3 separate regions of the Homo sapiens genome follow, and regions 1 and 3 are each linked to region 2. The links come from fine-mapping of genetic effects on gene expression. A gene starts in region 2. Each other region holds a variant in brackets. All regions are shown on one strand. Distances are between the middles of the regions. Region 1 overlaps LAMC3 (laminin subunit gamma 3). Region 2 holds the start of LAMC3 (laminin subunit gamma 3). Region 3 overlaps LAMC3 (laminin subunit gamma 3).

What was found.
Region 1: its variant is fine-mapped to the expression of LAMC3 in whole blood (TOPMed, PIP above 0.99).
Region 3: its variant is fine-mapped to the expression of LAMC3 in whole blood (TOPMed, PIP above 0.99). The same link has a PIP of 0.9 or more in blood mononuclear cells.

Annotation. Positions count from the first base shown.
Region 1 is chr9:131,043,055-131,045,554 of GRCh38, forward strand. It overlaps LAMC3 (laminin subunit gamma 3), which reads left to right. Exons shown (of 28, transcript NM_006059.4): 8 at 2,470-2,500. Among named protein-coding and RNA genes, the nearest start is that of LAMC3, 35 kb to the left of the region's middle. The variant C/T (reference allele first, on the strand shown) is at 1,168.
Region 2 is chr9:131,007,588-131,010,411 of GRCh38, forward strand. It overlaps LAMC3 (laminin subunit gamma 3), which reads left to right and starts at 1,587. Exons shown (of 28, transcript NM_006059.4): 1 at 1,587-2,000. The coding sequence starts at 1,628.
Region 3 is chr9:131,039,008-131,041,507 of GRCh38, forward strand. It overlaps LAMC3 (laminin subunit gamma 3), which reads left to right. Exons shown (of 28, transcript NM_006059.4): 5 at 1-45; 6 at 124-241. Among named protein-coding and RNA genes, the nearest start is that of LAMC3, 31 kb to the left of the region's middle. The variant A/G (reference allele first, on the strand shown) is at 1,248.

The DNA.
Region 1 (2,500 bases), 35 kb after region 2:
CATGAGCCCTACTATAACCTCAGGATCCTTCTTAACACCCTGCTTCAGGAAGCCCCTACCCACTGAGCTGGATTTTGAGCCTGTTTGCCATCTTTGCAGTCTGATCATGGTACAAATGGGGCATCTGAAGCTCTGCAAGTCAAAGGGGCTCTCCCAAGGCCAGGAAGTACATAAACTTCCTCTTTCAAGTGTTCAAGAGGCCTCCAAGCTCCAGCAGTGCGGCCAGCAGACAAACATGGGTTTAGCTCCTTGGGTACACACTATCTCTTCTTCCTGGCTTTGTGTCTGACATTCACCAGAGCTGCTTGGAGAAGTGGCAGATTCTGGGGCTGGGGCTGGAAAAAGACAAGATAAGCCCAAGGCGTCTTACAGTGCCAGGAAGCAAGGAAATGCTGAAAAACAGAGACAGACACAAACAAAACAGCCCAAACCAGAACGTGGGCCCATGTCAAAAGGACACAGGAGCCGACGTGAAAGAGCTCTCAGGGCTGAAACAATTTGAGCAACAAAATAAACGATAGTATTGGATTATAACCCAGAGAATAAAGTCAAATCCACGAATCCATACTGATGTAAATAGATGATTGAATACATAAATAGATGGGCATGAAGAGACAAACCTTCCTTGCAGAAGAATTCCAAGTAATGAATGTAGAAATGAAGGAACTGGAAAACCACTGTTCAGACCTCACAGTGGTAATTGCTACAGGCAAGAGCTGCCGATGAATGCTGACATTGGTGGGCAGAACTTTAAGGAAAGAGAGGATATTTGCATAACCTCAAAATATCTATTAATTACTGGGGTGGCTTTAACATCTGTCCGTGGGTTCTTTGATACTCTTCCTCTAGGAGGTCGAGCTTAATCCCCCTCTTTTTGAGACTGGGCTGCATTTAGTGACTTGCTGCTTTTTTTTTTTTTTTTGAGACGGAGTTTCGCTCTTTTGCTCAGGCTGGAGTGAAGTGGTATGATCTCGGCTCACTGCAACCTCTGTCTCCCGGGTTCAAGCGATTCTCCTGCCTCAGCCTCCTAAGTAGCTAGGATTATAGGCACCCACCACCACGCCTGGCTAATTTTTGTATTTTTAGTAGAGATGGGGTTTCACCATGTTGGTCAGGCTGATCTCGAACTGACCTCAGGTGATCCACCCACCTCGGCCTCCCAAAGTG[C/T]GTGAGCCGGCCAGGCGCGGTGGCTCATGCCTGTAATCCCAGCACTTTGGGAGGCCGAGGTGGATGGATCACGAGGTCAGGAGTTCAAGACCAGCCTGGCCAACATAGTGAAACCCTGTCTCTACTAAAAATACAAAAATTAGCCGGGCATGGTGGCGCACACCTGTAGTCCCAGCTACTTGGGAGGCTGAGGCAGGACAATTGTTTGAACCCGGGAGACAGAGGTTACAGTGAGCTGAAATCGTGCCACTGCACTCCAGCTTGGGCAACAGAGCGAGACTTCGTCTCAAAAAAAAATTTAAAGTGCTTGAGCCACCGCGTCCGGCCTATTCAGTGACTTGCTTCTAATGACTGGACCGTGGTGATTGCACAGTGGAGAGACTGGTAGACAGCACAGGTGATGAAAGTCAGCATCGCTTGGATGTCATGTGGGTTTCCTGTGCCCCCATGTGATATGACGAGAAGGGTACTTCACCTCTGTGTATTTCTTTCCCAAGCCTATAACTCTGGTCTAATCATGAGAAACATCAGACATTCTAAAAATACCTGATCAGTGCTTTTCAAAAAGTGTCAAGATAGTGGCAGACAAGGAAAGACTGAGAAGCGGTGATAGGTTGGAGGAGAACAAGGATACCACTAAATGCAACACCGTGTCCTGGATGGGATCCTGCAGCAGAAACCAGACATTAGAGGAAAAAGTGGAGAAATCCTATTAAAGTCGCTGGGCGCGGTGGCTCAAGCCTGAAATCCCAGTACTTTGGGAGGCTGAGGCGGGCGGATCCCCTGAGGTCAGGAGTTCGAGGTCAACCTGCCAACATGGTGAAATCCCGTTTCTACTAAAAATACAAAAATTAGCCGGGTGTGGTGGCAGGCGCCTGCAATCCCAGCTACCCGGGAGGCTGAGGCAGGAGAATCACTTGAACCCGGGAGGCGGAGGCTGCAGTGAGCCAAGATTGCACCATTGCACTCCAGCCTGGGCCACAGAACAAGACTCTGTCTCAAAAAAAAAAAAAAACAACAACAACAAAAAAACAAAACCTAATAAAGTCTGGAGTTTAGTTAACTTAGTTTTGACAAATGTACTGTGGTAATGTCAGATGTCAGCATCAGGGGAGGCTGTCTGAAGCAGGTATGGGAACAATCTGTAATGTTCTTACTACTCTTCTAGAATTCTGAAAAAAAATTGTTTTTAAGTTTCTGCAGTGATTCTAGACTCTCATTGGTCCAGCTGGGATACCCTGGCCCCGCCCCTTCCTGGCTGATTCACGTGGCCCTCGTGGGCATGTCCTGCCTCCATTTCAGATGTCGCCCGGGGACCTTTAACCTGCAGCCC
Region 2 (2,824 bases):
AAGTAGAAGATATAAATATTTATATCTTTTAAGTTTTTTGTCTTATTGTATTAGCTAGAACTTCCAAAATAACCTTAGGTACCAGTGGTGATATCATATACTAACTCTACTTAGATATAGTTCTGAAATCTCTAACTTATTCCATGGGTCTATTCTGTAGTCCTTTCCACAACCGTATTGTTTTAATCATGTGTAAATAACTGGTAGTGAATCAGCCCACTACAGTTCATCTTGCTTCCAAAAATTTTCTTTCTTTCTTTTCTTTCTTTTTTTTTTTTTTGATGGAGTTTCTCTCTTGTTGCCCAGGCTGGAGTGCAATGGCATGATCTCAGTTCACTGCAACTTCTGCCCCCCGGGTTCAAACAATTCTCCTGCCTCAGCCTCCTGAGTAGCTGGGATTACAGGCACGCACCGCCACACCCAGCTAATTTTTGTGTTTTTAGTAGAGACGGGGTTTCACTATGTTGGCCAGGCTGGTCTCGAACTCCTGACCTCAGGTGATCTGCCTTCCTCAACTTCCCAAAATGCTGGGATTATAGGCGAGAGCCACCGCGCCAGGCCAGGAAATTTATTTCTATTTTCCTTAGAGTTCGTCTGGGAATGGCTGCCTTTTTTTTTTTTTTTTTTTCGAGACAGGGTCTGACTCTGTTGGCCAGGCTGGAGTGCAATGGCATGATCACAGCCCACTGCAGCCTAACCTCCCGGGCTCAAGGGATCCTTCCACCTCAGCCTCCCAGGTAGCTGGGACTACAGGCTTGTGCCATGACGCCGGGCTAATTTTTGTATTTTTTTGTAGAGATAGGGTCTCACTATTTTGCCCAGGTTGGTCTCGAACTCCTGGCCTCAAGTTATCCTTCCGCCTCCACCTCCCAAAGTGCTAGGATTACAGGCGTGAGCCACCGCGCACGACCTGGCTGCTAAATTTTATCGAATGACTTCTCTCCCTCGATTTGCTAATGTTAATAAATGGGGAGTAAAGGGGGCATTTATGGGGGTTGGGGCAGAAGACAAGGAAGCCCTCTCTGAGGTGACATTTGTGATAAGACCAGGTACCCTTGTCACAAATGTCAGGTTAGAATCTCTTTGCTGTGGGGACAGAGCGCAGCCGGCAGCAGGAGTGCTTTTCAGGGTTAAGGGCGACAGGAGCTATGCGGAGCCATCTCACAACCCTGTCCAGGGCACACTTTATTGCTAGGAGGAGATGCGCAAACGGTAGCGATCAGTTAGAGATAGATCCTCTTGTCCCCTTTTATCTCAGGACTCCAAGGCACTGCTGAACAGTTTCTGTTTAATGAGCAGCCATTGAAGCCTCCCAATGGCGAGAATGAGCCTGCATCTTTACCGACCCCACTCCACAGACGAGGAAACTGAGGCTCAAAGAGGCCCGGGTCGCCTCTGGGGCAGACTCCCGAGCCGCGCACTGCCGGGCACGTCCAGCAGGTGGGAGTGGGCGCCCGGGGACGGCGCGGTCCCTGGTATTTTTAGTGGGGTGGGGCCGCCGCCGCCCGCCCCTCCCTCCAGCCTCCCCGCCCCGCAGGGGAAGGCGGGTCCTGGCGGCCAGCGCGCGGTCCGCGCCCACCCTAGCCGAGCGGGGCCGGCAGAGCGCGCGGCGTCGGTGCCCTTGACCATGGCGGCGGCTGCGCTTCTGCTGGGGCTGGCGCTGCTGGCACCGCGGGCGGCCGGCGCGGGCATGGGCGCGTGCTATGACGGCGCAGGGCGCCCGCAGCGCTGCCTGCCGGTGTTCGAGAACGCGGCGTTTGGGCGGCTCGCCCAGGCCTCGCACACGTGCGGCAGCCCGCCCGAGGACTTCTGTCCCCACGTGGGCGCCGCGGGCGCGGGGGCTCATTGCCAGCGCTGCGACGCCGCCGACCCCCAGCGCCACCACAACGCCTCCTACCTCACCGACTTCCACAGCCAGGACGAGAGCACCTGGTGGCAGAGCCCGTCCATGGCCTTCGGCGTGCAGTACCCCACCTCGGTCAACATCACCCTCCGCCTAGGTAAGCGCGGGCTGGGGGCACCGCCACCGCACCCCGTGTCCCCACTCCACTGGGGGTCTGAGGCTGAGGCCTGAGCTGCTGTGCGCCCAGGTTGGGCTGCAGGACCCAGATATGGTGTTGGATGGAGGGGCTCAGAAATAGGAATTAGGCTGGGTGCGGTGGCTCACTCCTGAAATCCCAGCACTTTGGGAGGCCGAGATGGGAGGGTCGCTTGAGCCCAGGAGTTCAAGATCAGCCTGGGCAACGTAGTGAGATCCCATCTTTACAAAAAATAAAGAAAAATAGGCCGGGCGCGGTGGCTGACGTCTGTAATCCCAGCACTTTGGGAGGCCGAGGCGGGCGGATCACCTGAGGTCAGGAGTTCGAGACCAGCCTGGCCAACATGGTGAAAACCCGTCTCTACTAAAAATAGAAAATTTGGCCGGGCGTGGTGGTAGGTGCCTGTAGTTCCAGCTACTCAGGAGGCTGGGGCAGGAGAATCGCTTGAACCCGGGAGGTGGAGGTTGCCGTGAGCCGAGGTCGCACCACCGTTCTCCAGCCTGGGCAACAGAGCTAACTCCGTCTCAAAAAAAAAAAAAAAAAAAAAAAAAAGCTGGGCGTGGTGGTGCACACCTATGGTCCCAGCTACTCAAGAGGCTGAGGCAGGAGGATCACTTAAGACTGAGAGGTTGAGGCTGCATGAAATATGATAGTGCCACTGTGCTACAGCCTGGGCTACAGAGTGAGACCTTATCTCTTAATAAAAAGAAAGAATGAAAAAAAGAAGAAAAAAAAACAGGACCTGTACCCCTAGATAGCCAGAAGGATAGACTGAGGGGTGCCCC
Region 3 (2,500 bases), 31 kb after region 2:
GGGACCCGCGGATGCCATGCCAGCCCTGTGACTGCCAGTCGGCAGGTGAGTGGACTCCACATCCCCAGCCTCCGACCCTCTCCCTTTCCTGGCCTCAATTGCCCTGTGCCCTTCCTCTCCCAGGCTCCCTACACCTCCAGTGCGATGACACAGGCACCTGCGCCTGCAAGCCCACGGTGACTGGCTGGAAGTGTGACCGCTGTCTGCCCGGGTTCCACTCGCTCAGTGAGGGAGGCTGCAGGTGAGGGCGAGGGGCGGCCCAGTATGGACACATTGCACTGAATGACAAGAAGCAGGAGGAACAGGCTGTCAGCAGTCCCTCCCCTCCCCATCCCTTCCTGTCTGCAGCTACCTCGCCCTAATCCTGGTGAAGACTAGAGACACTCAGCTCCTGGAGAGGCCAAGAGACAAAAACAGACCTTAATGAGACCAGGCTGAGCCCTGTGGAAGCTCAGCGGATCTTGCAGGTGGAGGGCAGGCTTCCTGTAGGAGGTGCTGCATAAGTGCAGGGAGAGGGGAAGGACAGGTGTTTGAGGTGGGGTGGGGGGCACGGGAGGCCTCTGGAGGAGCCGTGGATCAGTGAGAAGCAGGAGTGGGTGAGGGGGAGGCTGCGTGGAGGCTACAGCAGGAACGCCTGGGCAGCCTGCATGGGGGTTTGACTGTGGAGAGGGAGAGCAGGGCAGATTCCAGAGCCCAGTGCAAGGAGGAGCTAATAGGACATGGTGACCAGGGGGTGGAAGAGGAAGAAGAGGTGGAGGCTGACCTTCGGGGTTCTCTGGGCCTCTGGATAGCAGGGCACGCAGTGTGGGGAGCGGGGTGGGAGAGGCTGAGTGTCATCTGGGTGCACCGAGTTTGGTACCTAGTGGGACAGCTGAGGGGAGAGAGGGACAGGGGCTCCTGGGGTCTGGACCTTACCCCAACACATTTGCCATCACTTGATTGAGAAAGTATACAATGGCCAAAAAACAAAAACAAAACAAAACAAAAACCTATGATAAATTTAGAAGCTTTTTTTTTTTTTTTTTGAGACAGATTCTTGTTTTGTCAACCAGGCTGGAATGCAGTGGTGCCATCTTGGCTCACTGCAACCTCCACCTCCCCGGTTCCAGCAATTCTCTGCCTCAGCCTTCTGAGTAGCTGGGATTACAAGCATGCACCACCATGCCCACTATCTCTATTTTTTTTTTTAAGATGGAGTCCTCCTCTGTCACCCAGGCTGAAGTGCAGTGGCGCGATCTCTACTCACT[A/G]CAACCTCCGCCTCCCAGACTCAAGTGATCCTCTCATCTCAGCCTCCTGAGTAGCTGAGATTACAAATGTGCACCACCACACCCGGCTAATTTTTGTATTTTTTGGTAGAGATGGGGTTTTGCCATGTTGCCCAAGCTGGTCTCAAGCTCCTGGGCTCAAGTAATCCACCCTCCTCGGCTTCCCAAAGTGCTGATTACAGACGTGAGTCACCGCGCCTGGCCCAGAAGCACTTTTAAGTGAACTTGCTTTGGTTGATAACGGGCATCTTTGTATATTTGAGAGGCAGCAGAAACACATTGGGGATATCTAGGAGAGCTCTGATTCCTTGTAAAATATTTGGTGGTTCTGGGCATAAAACTGACCATGAGATGGGGCCTGGCTGCTTCCCTGGGGTCCCTCTGTCCTCTGGACCTTTGCAGGTGCCACACCTCCCACCCCTGCCCCCTCTCCCCAGCCTGTGGCTCACAGCCTCCTGCTCATTCTTCAGGTCTCAGCTGAGCAGCCCCGCTCTCGGGACACCTTCCCTCCCACCTGCCCCTCGCCTGCACACCCAGGCTGAGTCAGAGGCCCCACAGTGCAGGCACAGCCTCTCGTACATCTCCCACAACACGTATCGCGGTACAGGGTCTGCGTGATCTGTCTGTCTACACCAGACTGGGATTCACCAGGGAGGAACCATGTCTTATTAGATGAGTGGATGGATGGAGGGAGGGATGGAAAGATGCATGGATGGGTGAATGAATGGGTGGATAGGTGGCTGCTGGACAGAAAGAAGGAAGGATGAATAAGTGGATGGAGGAGTGAGGGGATAGACAGAAAGATTCATGGAGGCCGAGCACGGTGGCTCATGTATGTAATCCTGGCACTTTGGGAGGCCAAGGCAGGTGGATCACCTGAGGTCACGAGTTAAAGACCAGTCTAGCCAACATGGTGAAACCCTGTCTCTACTAAAAATACAAAAATTAGCTGGACATGGTGATGCATGCCTGTAGTCCTAACTACTCAGGAGGCTGAGACAGGAGAATCACTTGAACCCAGGAGGCAGAGGTTGCAGTGAGCCAAGATCATGACACTGCGCTCCAGCCTGGGTGGCAAAGTGTGACTCTGTCCCAAAAAAAAAGATTCATGGATGATGAGTGAGTGCGTGGATGACAGATGGAAGGATCCTGGATGGATGTGTGGTGGGTGGGAAGATGGACCACTGTACCAGTGATGGATGGGTCACTTCCTTGGCAAGATGGGAACAGTAAAG